Regions from separate parts of the Homo sapiens genome. Here all the other regions are linked to region 1. The links come from fine-mapping of genetic effects on gene expression. A gene starts in region 1. Each other region holds a variant in brackets. All regions are shown on one strand. Distances are between the middles of the regions.

Region 1 (5,227 bases):
TTATCCTCCCTGAGCCATTTGTTCTGCTGGCTATCCCTTCCTCCATTAGCTTCTCCTGTATGTCTCTCCTCATTGCTGTCAAATCTCAGGTAGCTCCTTCCCTGTATTGGCTTCCTTTGGACTCTCATTGGCCAAATGCCAGAATCTCTGGGTTTATTCTGTACCCTGCTCTTCCCATTCTATGTGCTTTCCTTGGGTGACCTCATCTGCTCTTCTGGCTTCAATGACCAGGGACATATTGAAAATTCATATGCCTCTAGTTCCATTCAGGCTTCACTTCTGAGTTCCAAACCATGTGCTCAATTGTCCCCTGGACACCTCCATTTAAGTGTCCCTCAGGTACCTCAGACATAGCTTCATCCTAACAAAATCAATATCTTTTCAGCCAAACGTCTTCCTTCGGTTTCTTTGTATTGTCATCATCCAGGATCTCAGCCTCTTTTCCTCATTTCTAGTCAGTCACCAACTTTAGTGAGATGAGGTGGTAGAGCTGGTCTCCGAGAGACACGCAGTGGATTGGGAGCTACTAACAGTGAGGACAACCACCTGGCAGACATGGTGCTAGGGAGTGGACCCAGTAAAGGAAGGGTGGCTACGGGTGATGCTTCCAATCTTGGATGAATTTTATGTAGCATCACCAGATGCTGAGGGTAGTTGGAGTTCTCGAGGAAAAAGGAATGAGCTTGCCTGTGCCTGAACAGGAACAGGGACAGAAAGAAGTCCAAAACAGTTAAGTTTGAAAGTAGGAGGGCACGTGTACCTGCATCTCTGAGGGGTAAGGAGGTTTCAAGTATTTGTGGGTTCTACCTTTGTAATGTCTTCCCAACCTGTTTTTTCCCTCGGTAGCCTCCAGGCTACTACCCACACCCAAGTCTTGTTCCGAAAGCATTTTTTTTTTTTAAACGGAGTCTTGCTCTTGTTGCCCAGGCTGGAGTGCAATGGTGTGATCTCAGCTCACTACGACCTCCGCCTCCCGGGTTCAAGCGATTCTCCTGCCTCAGCCTCCCAAATAGTTGGGATTACAGGCACCCACCATCACGCCCGGCTAATTTTTTATATTTTTAGTAGAGACGGGGTTTCACCATGTTGGCCAGGCTGGTCTGGAACTCCTGACCTCATGTGATCCACCCGCCTTGGACTCCCAAAGTGCTGGGATTATAGGTGTGAGCCACCACACCCAGCCCTGAAAGAAAATCTTATTTAAGTTGTTGGCTCCAGTAACTTTTGGACATCAAGTTAAAAATTTCTTAGCTTCTCAAACAAGGTCCTTCAGAATATGGTCCCTGTTTGCTGTCTAGGCCCATCTCTTGCTACTGCATATACATTCTTTTTGCTCCAGCCACATGGAAGTTCTTCCAGTCTTCTAAAAACATCACAACTTCATCCTTAGAATGTCTGTCTCACCCTCTCTTCCCCAAGCTCATTCATTCTTCCATTTCTGCTTGTCCTTCAACACTCAGTTCAAGCACCATTTCTCAGAAGACTTTCACAAGCCCAATCTGATTTTGTCTGGGCTATCTTGGTATCCTAAAGGATACGATCCACAAAAATATCATTTACCACACCTCACTGTAATCCATTAACTTGCCTCTCTTCCCCAGCAGACTGGGTACTTTATGAAGGCAGGTCTCAGTCTATCTGGCTTGCTATCCCAATGTCTGGCACTTGATATTACTTACTGTTTTCTTTCTTTTCTTCTCTTCTCTTCTGTTTTCTCCTCTCTTTCTCTGTCTCCTTTCTTTCCTTTCTTTTGCTCTGCCACCTAAGATGGAGTGCAGTGGCACCATCCTGGCTCACTGCAACCTCGACCTCCCGTGCTCGAGCAATCCTCCCGCCTCAACCTCCTGAGTAGCTGGGACTACAGGTGCACGCCACCACCCCTGGCTAACTTTTTGTTATGTATTTACTTATTTTTTTTGGTAGAGACGGGGTTTCACCATGTTGCTCAGGCTGGTCTCGACCTTCTGGACTCAAGTGATCCGCCAGCCTCAGCCTCCCAAAGTGCTTGGATTACAGGCATGAGCTACGGCGCTTGGCCGGCACTTGGTACTTTTAATGAATAGTTATTAACCATGAAACTTTTAAAGTTTAAGCAGTAGTATGTTTAACCTGGAAGACTTTTAACATTTAAACAGCAGGCCATTTAATTGTGGCAGTTCACATGCTACACCAGTGCATGGAGCTCCTTGTGGCCAGTGCAATGTTGCTGGCCCATCTGGCAGTGGGAAAATCTGGGCATCCAGGAGTGCATCTCTAGGGAAGTATCACCAGCCCTCACACCAATCTCAAGCTGCCTGTCTTCTGCAGAACCCACTAGATCAGCGCGCTTCTGGCCTTGACCCACTTGGTGGTTACCTACAGCCACTAAGAGGTGGGCAGATAGATGTTTTTGGTAAGTGGTCTCTGGGTTAGGGAGTGCATGGGTTATGTCCGTCTAGGGGTGTGTGTGTGTGTGTGTGTGTGTGTGTGTGTGTGTGTGTGTGTGTGCATGGGTGGGGGAAGGGAGGAAGGAGGCCGAATGTGCATCCCTTCTACAAGGACGCCTTTCCAGACCTCCTTATTAGGTGGCGTTCGCCTCCTCACCCTCTCTCAGCCCCTTATCTCCTCTTACACGGATCACGACTTGATTAATGCTTGTCTCCCAGCTAGGCCGCCAGCTGCACAAGGTAAGGAACCGAAGGCATTCCGGTTCTCCCTGGCAATCCTCCTTCTCAGAAGGATGCCTGAGGCATAACAAGTGTTCCAGAAATATTTCTTCCGCAAGCGCTCTGGGCCAGTCTGGACGGACCGAGCGCCCGCTGGGCTGCGGGGGCCCCGGGACCCCGGCCGGCACTGACGCCCCGCCCACCACCGGCCGGCCCGGGCGGGGTGGGGCGCGGCTGGGCGCTCTCGCGGGGACCGTTCTCCGGCTAGCGTGGGCGATGCCCGGGCGGGGAAACGGGAGGGGACGACGCGACGCGAGGTAGCGGCCTGGCCAATGAGCGCGGGTCGGGCGGGGCTGGGGGCCGGCGGCCGGGGCGCGCGCGGGTCTGGGCGTGCCGCGGGTGACGGCGGGGCCGGGCGGGCCAATGGGCGCTGGGTGGCGGGCGGGCGGGCCTGGCGGCCGGGGGCTTTAGGACGTGAGCGGGCGGCCGGCCGGACAGACTGACGTGTGAGCTGCATCGCGGGAGGCGCATGGCGGGGATGGCGCTGGCGCGGGCCTGGAAGCAGATGTCCTGGTTCTACTACCAGTACCTGCTGGTCACGGCGCTCTACATGCTGGAGCCCTGGGAGCGGACGGTGTTCAGTATCCTGTCCCGGCCGCGCGCGCGGGGGCCGGGCTGGGGGCGCGGGCCGCGGGGCCGCATTTCCCCAGGCCCCGGGCCTGGGGTGGAGGCTGGAGCGGCGGCCCCGCCGGTCCTGTGCGCGGAAGCCGGGGGTGCAGGGGGAGGTCTGGGGGCCGAGGGCGGCGCTCGCGGGGTTAAGTGGGGGGTGGGGGAGACGAGAACTCTTGAGATCCGGGGTCACCTGTGAGTCGCTGGACCCAAGGGGGAAGCGTCTTGATTCCTGGAGGAAATCTCCGAAGGTGATGTGTAACCCTGTGTGTCGCCTGCACTTCGGCCGCAACTGCCTTTGGTTCAGTCCCCTGTTCCTGTAGGAGGCGGGGATCATGTAACAGTGGAGCACATCGCTCCCGGCTTGGACGCCTTTGACCTTTAAGTGTTCCTGATTTAGTTGGCTTTGGGTCTACCAAGAATTCTAGTCAGTTAACTAGCTTTTAAGCCAGGTTCTGAATTTGTAGGCATGACACTCCAGTAGTTTTTGAAAGCAGTTTAAGTTATTGTATCTTTTTGGTCTTCAAGTTGGGGAGTTTTAAAAGTGTATTTATTGCTTCTGTGCACCGTCCGTAGAAGTCGGCCCGAAAAGTGGTGCAATTTGTGGTTAGTTGTCGGTAGGGTTTGAAACTGTGTTTTGGTGGATAGTTAATAAATTCTTGTTAATGACTATTGAGTGGTTACTATAAGCAAAGCATTTGTGCAAAGCACGTTGTCTGTATCTTAACTCATCTAACTTTGAGAACTTCAGTTAATAACTCAGGGTTGTGAAGATAGGCTCCCTGAAAGTCTGATGTTTCTTGTCTCTGCTTGTCCATATTGACATCCTTTGATGATATTCTTGCAGATTAAATACTGATAATGAATGAGATGTAACTTTTAAAAAACTCAGGCCAATACAAAACAGGTATTTCACAAAACATGTTTAGTTTATCCACGTTCTCTCCTTTTCAGTGTGGTTTAGTTGGAGTAGCTTACTTCAGAATAACTTTGCGAATGCATTGTTGCATTCCAGTGAGTGACTGAGGTAATTTCATTCTAAGCCTTATCAAGTGTGTTTATTTGTTTTGAGATAGCTTAAGGTTGTACTCAAAGCTGAGTCTTTTGTTTAAGCACTTTTGAGGAATTTGAGATGCTTTCAAAGCAGTTTATTTATTTATTACTGTTGGCATTTCTTTCCAAACCTGGAATTTAAGAACCAGAATGCATATTTTGGATTTAGACTCTGAATATAGTTTGCTTTGATTTCCTGCACCATTTATTTGTAGCTGCAGTTTAGTCTCACTCTTTAGGGCTCGCAAGGTCATGCCTTGTAAAATATATACTTGAATGCATATTTAATAGAAGTCTCTCAGTAGAAGCAAGTATATCTTGACTGACATAACACATCCTAAAATTAATTTAAACAATGCTGGGTTAAAATGAAACTCTTTAAATCAGAGGTTGAATGTAGAGTGCACTATTAGAATCTAGTATAGATTTGACACCTAAAATCTAATATAGATTTTACACACTAAAATGCTACAGTTATCAATGATGTTAAGATTTTTCTGTTATGTTGCAATAGTGATAGTGTCCTATAAATAACTAGGTGATGCCTTTTTTGGGGGATGGAGAAATAAATTATGAAATGAAATATAGTGCCTTAGTAGATATTTGCCTTTAATGTTTTTGAGTTACCATGGTTTAGCGACAAGTAGTTTCAATTTTTTTTTCAAATAGGTGAGAACTGCAACCAACTGACATCCAATATTATAGAACCTTATGATTTTAAACTTAAGATAAAAAAATCTTATTTCAAATTTCACGTTATTGAATTAACTCAGGTTAGAAATGCAATTGTTTGACATAAGCCAGTCTTGAATTACTATCAGCTGTTGTATTTATATTTTTCCACTTCAACTTCTAGAATC
Region 2 (5,227 bases), 83 kb after region 1:
TTACCCAGTCCAGGTGCAGTAGCTCAGGCCTGTGATCCCAGGACTTTGCAAGGCTAAGCTGGGTGGATCACTTGAGGTCAGGAGTTCAAGACCAGCCTGGCCAACATGGGCAAACCTCTACTAAAAATACAAAAAACTTAGGTGGGTGTGGTGGCACATGCCTGTAATCCCAGCTACTTGGGAGGCTGAGGCATGAGAATTGCTTGAACCTAGGAAGTGGAGGTCCCAGTGAGCCGAGAGTACGCCACTGCTCTCCAGCCTGGGTGACAGAGTGAGACTCTGTCCCAAAAAAACAAAACAAGGCCGGGCGCAGTGGCTCATGCCTGTAATCCCAGCACTTAGGGAGGCTGAGGCGGGCAGATCACGAGGTCAGGAGATTGAGACCATCCTGGCTAACACAGTGAAACCCCGTCTCTACTAAAAATACAAAAAATTAGCCGGGCGTGGTGGTGGGCGCCTGTAGTCCCAGCTACTTGGGAGGCTGAGGCAGGAGAATGGCCTGAATCTGGGAGGCGGAGCTTGCAGTGAGCTGAGATTGCACCACTGCACTCCAGCCTGGGCGACAGTGCGAGACTCCGTCTCAAACAAATCAAAACAAAACAAAACCTAGACTTACTGTTTAACCCAAAAATCCCATTATTGGGTATATACCCAAAGGAATACAAATTGTTCTACCATAAAGACACATGCACACATATGTTCATTATGGCACTATTCACAATAGCAAAGACATGGAATCAACCTAAATTCCCATCAACTGTAGGCTGGATAAAGAAAATGTGGTGCATATACGCCATGGAATACTATGCAGCCATAAAAAAGGATGAGATCATGTCCTTTGCAGCAACATGGGTGGAGCTGGAGGCCATTATCCTAGGCAACCTAACACAGGAACAGAAAACCAAACACCACATATTCTCACTTATAAGTGGGAGCTTATAACAAGAAAAATGCATAGACACTAGGAGGGGAACAACAGACACTGCAGCTGACTTGAGGGTGGAGGGTAGAAGTCGGGAGAGGACTAGACAAAATACCTATCAGCGACTATGCTTATTACCTGGGTGACGAAATTATCTGTACACCAAACCCTGGTGACATGCAGTTGACCTATATAACAAACCTGCACATGTATCCCTGAACCTAAAATACAAGTTCAAAAAAATCATAATAAAATAAAATAAAATAAATGAAACCACATGTGCTTAGATTTTAAAAATCTAACAAGCCAGGCATAGTGGTGTTCACCTGTAGTCCCACCTACTTGGGAGGCTGAGGCAGGAGAATTCTTTGAGTCCAGGAGTTCAAGTCCAGCATGGGTAACATAGAGAGACCCCCGCCCCCTTACCAAATCTCTAAAGACAGACAGACAGACAGACAAACAAACAAACATCTAGCACGGGAACAAAGGCAATTGGAAAATAGGTTAAGCATATTTTTAGGAAGCTGAACAAGTTTTTAAGAGCTAAAACAAGTGAGAAGTATGCTAAGTAATGAAGTGTGGACTTACAAAGCAGCCTACTGTAAATTCTTTTGATTATTAATTTGCTAAAGGCCCTTGAGTCATGAATACAGATGAAAATCTATGGAAAATTGACACGTGTTCTCAAATTGGGGCCATACATCACCACGGCCAAGATATGGTGCAATATGATAGTCTTAAATGCTTAACGTAATGCTATGCCTATAATTACATGTATGGCGTTATCTTTAATATGAACTGATTAATGAGGGTGACATAAAGCAAGGATGAATGTTAGTTATTCAGACACTGATGTTCAGATAGCCACCTGAGAAGTCATTTTTCTCAAAGTTCTATTCCTTAAGGATTGTAGAAATGTCAATTGTTTTTGCAGTTTCCATTTCAAGAAGCAGTTATTCATAATCCCCAGAGAACTCTTCCCTAACAGACTACAATAAAACTTACAATTAATGGTGGTGACATTTTAGACCTAAATTACTGCCTTCATGCTTTAAATCATTATCCTGCTATCCCTATGCATGGAACTTTCAAAGTTTTCATTTCATTCCTGGCTTATCTCTCATCTCCACTGC[G/A]TGACTAGTTCCTTGTCCCTTACAAACGAATGCAGGAGGCTGAATTTCTAATGTTCCCCTTAAAATTCTCCTACTTGTTAACAGTACTTTTATGGTAGTTCATCTAAAATAGTTTTTCAACAAACTTCTCAAAGGCTGTCTCTGGCTGTCCATTTTCTTTCTTCATTTTTTAGCTGAATAGCTGGTATACACTAGTCCATTCTGGTATTTGTGTGTTTCCTCCCCTCTCTCTCTTTTTCTACTTTATTTCTCAAAGGTGATTGATATCTTCAATCCCTAGTTACCCCATCATGTGAGCCTCTTTGTTCTCCATGTCCTTCCCACTCTGCTCACAGGGCCCTTGGACTCTGCCTCCCTCTCTCTATCCTTCTTCAAAGGCCACTAAAGAGGTTCTTTTTACGAACTTTTTCTTGGTAAACTGAAGACAGAGTGCTGGGAAACGAAACCTTGAAAAAGACCTTGGAAACCTTGACCAGACGCTGGGCAGTCTGGTTCCCTTTGTCTCTCAGCCCCCAAGGGCTTCTCTCCTCTATCCCTGCTGTGAGCTAGTCACTGGAAAAACACACCTGACCTTGCCAGCCAAGTGAGGGTGCCAAGAATGAGAGGGAAGCATTCTTCTCATCAGCAGATGGGAGGTCTCCCTCAAAGGATTTCTCAATGCCGCCTGAATCAAAGCCTGTGTTTCCCAGAGCAAGGTATTCCCTGGAGGCCTCCTGAGCTCTGGCCACAGTGTTCTCATACAGCTAGCAAGAAGTCATAATGGAATTCGCTCCAACAATCCCACTGCCTTGTTGTTGTTCTGTTCTTGAAGCTTACTCTGTATCATAAACATAATTATAAGAAGAAGTTAAACATATAAATGTGTTCTAAAGAAATGGGCTTTTGTGGCAGGGCGCAGTGGCTAACGCCTGTAATCCCAGCACTTTGGGAGGCCGAGGTGGGTGGATCACCTGAGGTTGGGAGTTCGAGACCAGCCTGGCCAACATGGTGAAACCCCCGTCTCCACGAAAAATGCAAAAATTACCCGGGTGAAGTGACACGTGCCTGTAATCCCAGCTACTCAGAGGCTGGGGAAGGAGAATCACTTGAACCTGGGAGGCAGAGGTTGCAGAGAGCCGAGATCGCGCCACTGCACTCCAGCCTGGGCGACAGAGCGAGACTCTGTCTCAGAAACAAAACAAAACAGAAATGGGCTTTTGCTATGCAGTGGATGGGACCTCGGCTTTTTGAGAGTGATTGGTGGTATGCAAAATGTGGAGAATCCCTCCTCGAGGCCAGATTCTTTGGTATCAATAGTGCTTCATGTAGAGATCCTTTTGTTTGGATCTCTACAATCTTTGGATTGTTTGTCAGAGATTGAGAAGGCACCAGTCTCCTCCTTTTCCCATTGGTTACCACCTCCTGTGTGCATAGAATATTGTATTTTTAAAATCATAGAGTTAGAACATAGGGGTGTGGGTAAATTTTCCTTAGTCCAATACAATTAATTTGATATCCAAAATGAGCTTGTTTCCTGCTTTGCATTTCAACCCCCTAACCCACCCATCCCCACTTTACCCAACATTCTTTGAAGGCTGGGGTTTATCTCATCGTTGAGAAGGAAAAGGCCAAAGGCTTGACTTTCAAATAATTCATTTCCTGCAGTCGCTCACATTCCCAGTCTCTTTTCTTGTTCCTATTTTTAGCTGGTCATAGCTCTTTATAATTTGGAAATTAAAGTCCTTAAAAACAAAGAAATAAACAATTTCACTGGGATGACTGTCAATTTTAAAATAAGCAATTGTTGAGTGCCTACTATAAACTCAGAATGGACTAGGCACTTAAAAAAAGCCAAATTAAAAACAAGGTCCATGTCATTAAGAATCTCATAGTCAGCAGGGAAGGCAGTTGCATAAACAAATAATTTAATACAAAGAAATAAATTGCTTTCATGAGGTTATATATCTGGACCAATGAGAAAATCGGAGAAATGGAGCTTCTTAGTAGATCTGGGCAATGCAGACAAAGCTTTCCAACAGACATATCTTCTCTAGGAGGAGTGTGTGGGGAGGGGTTGTTACAGAGGTGGAGGGGATAGTATGTAGCTCAGAGAATGGCATGTGTGCAGGCCCAGTGGCTCTGGAGGACAGCACGTACTCAGAGTCACCACAGCAATCGAGTATGTCTGGAGAACTGGCTGTGAATGGGTGCAGAAGGAGACTGAGACTAGGAAGGAATGCAGGGATGAAGATCACAGAAGGCCTTGCCTACCATGGAAAAGGAGTTTGTTAGGTTTTATCTTCAAGACACTAGGAAGCCACTGAAAGATTCTGAGCAGGGTAGTGGTGTGATCAGACTTTTGTGTTGGAAACATCCTCTGTAGAGAAAGAAGGGTGGAAGATAGATTGGAGGGCAGCAAGACTGGAGGCAAGAAAGACCAGTGGGAGGATGCTTGTTTAATATTTAGTTTAAGAGAGACAATGAAGACAAGAACAGGGCAGTGGGGTAGAGATAGAGAAGAAAAGTTTATAAGATACATAGGATTTGGTGATTGATTACTTATGGAGCAAGAAAGAGAGACATTTCTGGCTTGGTCAGCTTGACATTTCTCAAGATAGAGAAGACAGAGGAATAGGATTTTTGTGGCAGGGGTTGGGAAGAGGAAGGATCCCTCTGTGGTCTCAGTCTAGGAAGTCCCCCAACCTTCCTTGGTTCTCCATGACCTGAACTTTGAGAGTCCAGATCAGTTGTCCCACACGACAGCCTATACCCTGGATCATAGTTAGATTTAAACCTGCTATTTTCAGTAGTTTACCAGTAAGTGATGTTTGTACCTCCCACTGTGTCACATCAAAGAGAATCTAATGTTAGGAGCCCATCCCTTTTATAGTGAGACTTTTGACTATCATATCAGAAATTGTCCAGATTATTGGATCTTACAAATCAGACATATATGAGTATATATATATATATTTTTTTTTTGGTGGTCCTGGTCTTTTGTAAAAAATGATACATGTTCTGAGTATTTCATCTTTAAAGTATGGCTTAATGAAAGCCAACTTTGGAGCTATTTATTCAGATTGTTTTTTCTTGGTTTTATGTTCCCATGGAAACCTGTATAGCAAATAGGTTGTTCTGAGTGAGGCCTGGCCTGGTTCAGTTAAATCCAAAGGCTTCAGTCAATCTGGTTCAC
Region 3 (5,227 bases), 93 kb after region 1:
TGCCCAGGCTGGAGTGCAATGGTGCAATCTCGGCTCACCACAACCTCCGCCTCCTGGGTTCAAGCAATTCTCCTGCCTCAGCCTCCCAAGTAGCTGGGATTACAGGCATGCGCCACCATGTCTGGTTAATTTTGTATTTTTAGTAGAGATGGGGTTTCTCCATGTTGGTCAGGCTGGTCTTGAACTCCCGACCTCAGATGATCTGCCTGCCTCGGCCTCCCACAGTGCTGGGATGACAGGTGTGAGCCACCACGCCCAGCCAGAACCCATATTCTTTGCTGTTGCCCTTTAGTGCCCTTTAGCTGATAACTTGAGTTCCTAGGGACTTGAGGCTTCCTATAGGAATGTTTTATGATATCTATTTGATTCTAGAATATTAATTTGTTCCAGGTCTAGGAAGCAATGTACAGCTGTGAAATTTATTTATTTATTTATTTATTTATTTTTTGAGACCAAGTCTTGCTCTGTCACCCAGGCCTGAGTGCAGTGGCACGATGTTGGCTTGCTGTCTCCCAGGTTCAAGCAATTCTCTTGCCTCCCAAGTTGCTGGGACTACATGTGTGCAACACCACACCTGGTTAATTTTTGTATTTTTAGTGGAGATGGGGTTTCACCACGTTGAGCAGGCTGGTCTCGAACTCCTGACCTCAGGTGATCCACCCGCCTCAGCCTCCCAAAGTGCTGGGATTACAGGCATAAGCTACTGCTCCCAGTCGTAGCTATGAAATTTAATTGAGAGAGAGAGAGAGAGAGAGAGAGAGAGAGAGAGAGAGAGAGAGAGAGAGTGTGTGTGTGTGTGTGTGTGTGTGTGAGAGAGAGAGAGAGAGAGTGAGAGAAACAGAGAGACTTAGAGGCAAAAATAAAAATTAGATAGAAAGAGACAGACAGACAGACATGAGACAGAAAGGGAGATACAGTAAGAGAACCTGAGGGAAAGACAGAGACAGACAGATGCACAGACTAACAGACATACCAGCCAATCCACCCATCAAGTCACTTGCTCTTTCTCAATTTTCTTTCACTAGTAAGGGTATAGTATAATGTTTCCTTACATATTTCTTACGAATCAACACGAATGTGAACAATGGTGTCCAGTATTATTTTGTGCTGTGGGGAATATAAAATATTAGCAAGAATTTGGCAACTCTAAAGTACAGAGAAACCTAAATAAAGGCTTTTGTTTGTGCCTAACAGTAGACTATTACAGAACAATTATTTAAATGTCTTACATACTTAACATAAGTAATCAAGCATAGGCTTTGGAGTTGGACTTATGAAATTCATATTCCAGCTTCATTTATTAGTGTAATTTTAAGTAAGTTATTGAAGTCTGGGTATCCGTTTTCTGATCTGTGAAATGGCAATAATAATGGTACCTATTTTGTGGAGTCCTTGGGAGTTTTTAAAGAGATGATGTCGGCTGGGTGCGGTGGCTCATGCCTGTAATCCCAGCACTTTGGGAGGCCAAGGCAGGTGGAATACCTGAGGTCAGGAGGTCGAGACCAGCCTGGCCAACATGGTGAAACCCCATCTGGTAGAATATAAAAATTAGCCGGGTGTGGTGGCGCATGCTTGTAATCCCAGCCACTCGGGAGGCTGAGGCAGGAGAATCACTTGAATCCGGGAGGTGGAGGCTGCAGTGAGTGTAGATTGAGCCATTGCACTCCAGCCTGGGCAACAGAGCGAGACTCCATAACAAAAAACAAATAAAAACAAAACAACGACAACAACAACAACAACAGAGATGATGTCCAACAGTGTTTGACACAATTAATTTAGCCATTTTTATTTCATCACTAGTGCTGACAAGGATAATGTAATTTAAAAATTAACTGAATAAATATATCTGCTCTTAATAAGTAGTAGCTGCATTGTCCTACTTGTAGAACTCAGATGCCTAGTTTTAGGGAGCACTGTCCTCAGTGCAAGCACTGTGGTGACCTGGAATCTCCTGCCCTGACACGTACAGTTTGCTTATCAAGCAATTACCCTGGCACCTACCATTTCTGAGCCTTAGGAAAGCCCTATTTAGAATGCCACTTAAGGAATGTGCTCCCTCCCTTGAGTTCTTATGCAAGATCTTTTTTGAATGCTTAAAGAGAGAATAATAATAATAATAATGATAAGAAGAAAAAGAAGAAGAGGAAGAAAGAAAAAGGAAGAAGGAGGAGAAGGAGAGGAGGAGGAGGAGAGCAAATCAGTAAATCACTTAAGTAAAATTTGCCCTGCAAAGAAGTCAGGGCATCTTGGTCCTATCTTGTTCTCCCCCTCACCAAATTGGTGCCACTTCCTGAACACACTGGGTGCTTTCACATACTGGTGCATTTGCTGGCATGGTTCTGCCTGGCCTGGATGCCCTTCCCTTCATTTCTCAACACTTCCCCCGTCAAAAGCCAAGGAACTCCGTTGTGTAGCTTTCTCCAACACCCACAGATGGAATTAATA[C/A]TTCCCTCTTCTGTAGACCCACACCACTCTGGAAACACCCCTATCATGCAGTTTATTATAGTCTGCCTAATTAGAAGCATGGTATTTGTCCACTGTGGTTGACCATGAGCTCCTGGCAGACTGGCAGTATTTTATCCGCTTTGTAGTCTTAACAGGTGGGGCAGAGCCTCTGATGATTCTGGGGGAAAAGAGTGAAATCACCTTTTGCCATTTGTCATGTTGTAAAGCTTCCTTTCCTTTGCTAAATACTTACCAGGAGAGCCCTACCATCATGGCTTAAGCATTTTTGTCCCACAGCAAGGGACTAGCCAGGGCAGGGAGGTAGATAGTTTTGTATTTCATATATGGCTTGTATTGTGCCATGAGAATATTTGCAGGCTTGTTACTTTGAAGTGCCTCTGTCAGAGACTAGAGGAAGCCTGATTCTCAAGCCCAAATGAGATAGGAAAGTTGTCATGGATACCATAACTGCCAGTCTTCTTGGATGTCATAGGCGAGGCAGGTCAGCTCAAGAGAGAAGTGCTTCCTGGTGGTGTTTGCCATGCCTGATTGTGGATAAATCCAATATAACCCAGCATTTTCTACACTTGTTTGAATGCACGAAATCTAGTGGGCAAAGATTGAGAAAGGCAGCCTTTAATTGCTGGGTGTGGTGTAAGGTTGATTGAGTGTGGTGGAGTTGTGAGTAGACTTGCCTGCAGAGAAGTAAAACAGATGGAAATTCCATGGCCTTGTAAGTGAGTTTTTATCTCTATTTAAAATCTTTCTCATTTCTTCAACTTACGGTTATGAAATATTTCAAACACACAGAAAAGTTGAAAGATTATTATGGTGTAATCCCATATGCCCTCCACATAAATTTCACAATTGTTAATATTTTGCAATACTTGCTTTATTTTTCTCTGTACTTTGGTTTTCTTTTTTGTGTGCCATTTGAAAGCAAATTATGTACACATGATGACACAACACTTTTCGATATTCAGCATTTCATCCCTTAAGAATACAGATATTTATCCACAGAAACAAAATGTCATTATCCCTGCTAAGAAAATTAACTATCTAAAATCAACTAAATATTTACATTTCTGGCCGGGCATGGTGACTCACGCCTGTAATCTCAGCACTTTAGGAAGATTGCTTGAGCCTAGGTGTTCAAGGCCAGTCTGGGCAATATAGTAAAATGACGTCTCTTAAAAAAAAAAAAAAAAAAGGCAAGAGTGGTGGTGCATGTCTATAGGCCTAGCTACTCAGGAGGCTGAGGTGGGAGGATCACTTGAGTCCAGGAGGTTGAAGCTGCAGTGAGCTATGATGACACCACTCACGGCACCCCAGCTTAGATGACAGAACGAGACCCTGTCTCAGAAAAACAAACAAACAAACAAACTGCATTAATTCCTCCAAAATGTCTTTGTAGCTGTTTCTCTCAAATTAATGCATACATTACATTTTAAAACTTCATTTTAACATAGAATGTTTTATCCCTCTTTTTTTCCCTCCATGACATTGACTTTTTGAAGAATCCAGGCTCGCAGCCTTATAGAATGTCCCACATTCTAGATTGTGTTTTCTCTTGATGTTAACCTGTTCCTCTTTCCCAGTAAGTTTTAACCCGGGCTGTACATTAGAATTCCTTGTTTTGATTAATTGGCCTTACAAAGAAGAAGTAATAAATTGGTCCACTCTGTTCTCACTGGGGGTTTTAAATACAAAACTAAAAACCTAGAAATTTCATACAAATGTCTGAGTGCTGCTCTAATCCAGTTAAATCAGAAGCCCTTGGGATGCAGCCCAGGTGGCCCTACTTTCAAAAATCTCCGGGTGGCTCTAATATGAGGTCAGAAGTAAGAACCACTGCTCTATCTCCTGTATATTCTTTAAACTAGAAGTTAGATTCGAGTATACGTTTTTGTTCAGAATATCTTAACTGTACATTACAATCATGTGGGAAGCTTTAAAAAATACTGATGCTTGGCAACTCCGGCCCCCGCCCCTGCCCAAGTAGATTCTGCCGTAGTTGGCATTAGGAGTTTGAAAAGCTCCTCGGGTGATTCTAATGCAATTAAGAAGCGCTACTGCCTTAGATTAGGTTGTTGAATTTGCATCATATCAGGAAGCATGTAATGCCACAGTGTTCCATTTTTTGTGATGTGAAATTCAATCACTGGATTAAGGTGGTCACCACCATACCTCTCCATTTCAAAGGTACAGTTGCTCTTCTTTGTTTATTTTATATATTTTTTGAGATGGAGTCTTGCTCTATCACCCAGGCTGGAGTGCAGTGGCGCGATCTCAGCTCACTGCAACCTCTGCCTCCCGGGTTCAAGAAATTCTTCTGCCTCAGTCTCCCAAGTAGCTGGGACTACAGGCGTGTGCCACCATGCCCAGCTAATTTTTGAATTTTTAGTAGAGACGGGGTTTCACCATGTTGGCCAGGCTGGTCTCGAACTCCTAACCTTGTGATCCGCCCACCTTGGCCTCCCAAAGTGCTGGGATTACAGGCATGAGCCACTGTGCCTGGCCCAGTTTCTCTTCTTTGTAAAAGTAAGTGGTCCCTGGGATGGTACTTTGGTACTCTAGGGATAGCCCGTATGCTAACAAGTTTTCATCCAAAGGTTTTGGCTTCCACTGGTGATTGTTACATGAATCAATGATTATATCAGGGGTTACAAAATGGTGATCTTCGAATTTTGTCATTTCTTTTACATTTATGAGTGTCTTACTTTTGTAAAGAAGAGCTGTCCTGTTTATCCTCCCCACTCCCTGCCCTGGGATTCACGTATCT

Direction of the effects. Positions count from the first base shown, and alleles are read on the strand shown. Sizes are in standard deviations (SD) of each study's normalised expression. Not every link is listed here.
As copies of G replace A in region 2, the expression in esophagus mucosa of the gene that starts at base 3,142 in region 1 goes down (small effect, 0.26 SD a copy in GTEx).

The links. PIP is the estimated chance that this variant, and not a neighbour inherited with it, causes the effect.
Region 2: its variant is fine-mapped to the expression of SPTSSA in esophagus mucosa (GTEx, PIP above 0.99).
Region 3: its variant is fine-mapped to the expression of SPTSSA in whole blood (TOPMed, PIP above 0.99).

What each region holds. Positions count from the first base shown.
Region 1 is chr14:34,460,155-34,465,381 of GRCh38, reverse strand. It overlaps SPTSSA (serine palmitoyltransferase small subunit A), which reads left to right and starts at 3,142. Exons shown (of 2, transcript NM_138288.4): 1 at 3,142-3,286. The coding sequence starts at 3,175. RefSeq lists silencers at 2,620-3,129, 3,250-3,419 and enhancers at 2,329-3,279, 3,820-3,929.
Region 2 is chr14:34,377,099-34,382,325 of GRCh38, reverse strand. No RefSeq gene overlaps it. Among named protein-coding and RNA genes, the nearest start is that of SPTSSA, 83 kb to the left of the region's middle. The variant G/A (reference allele first, on the strand shown) is at 2,056.
Region 3 is chr14:34,366,656-34,371,882 of GRCh38, reverse strand. No RefSeq gene overlaps it. Among named protein-coding and RNA genes, the nearest start is that of SPTSSA, 93 kb to the left of the region's middle. The variant C/A (reference allele first, on the strand shown) is at 2,446.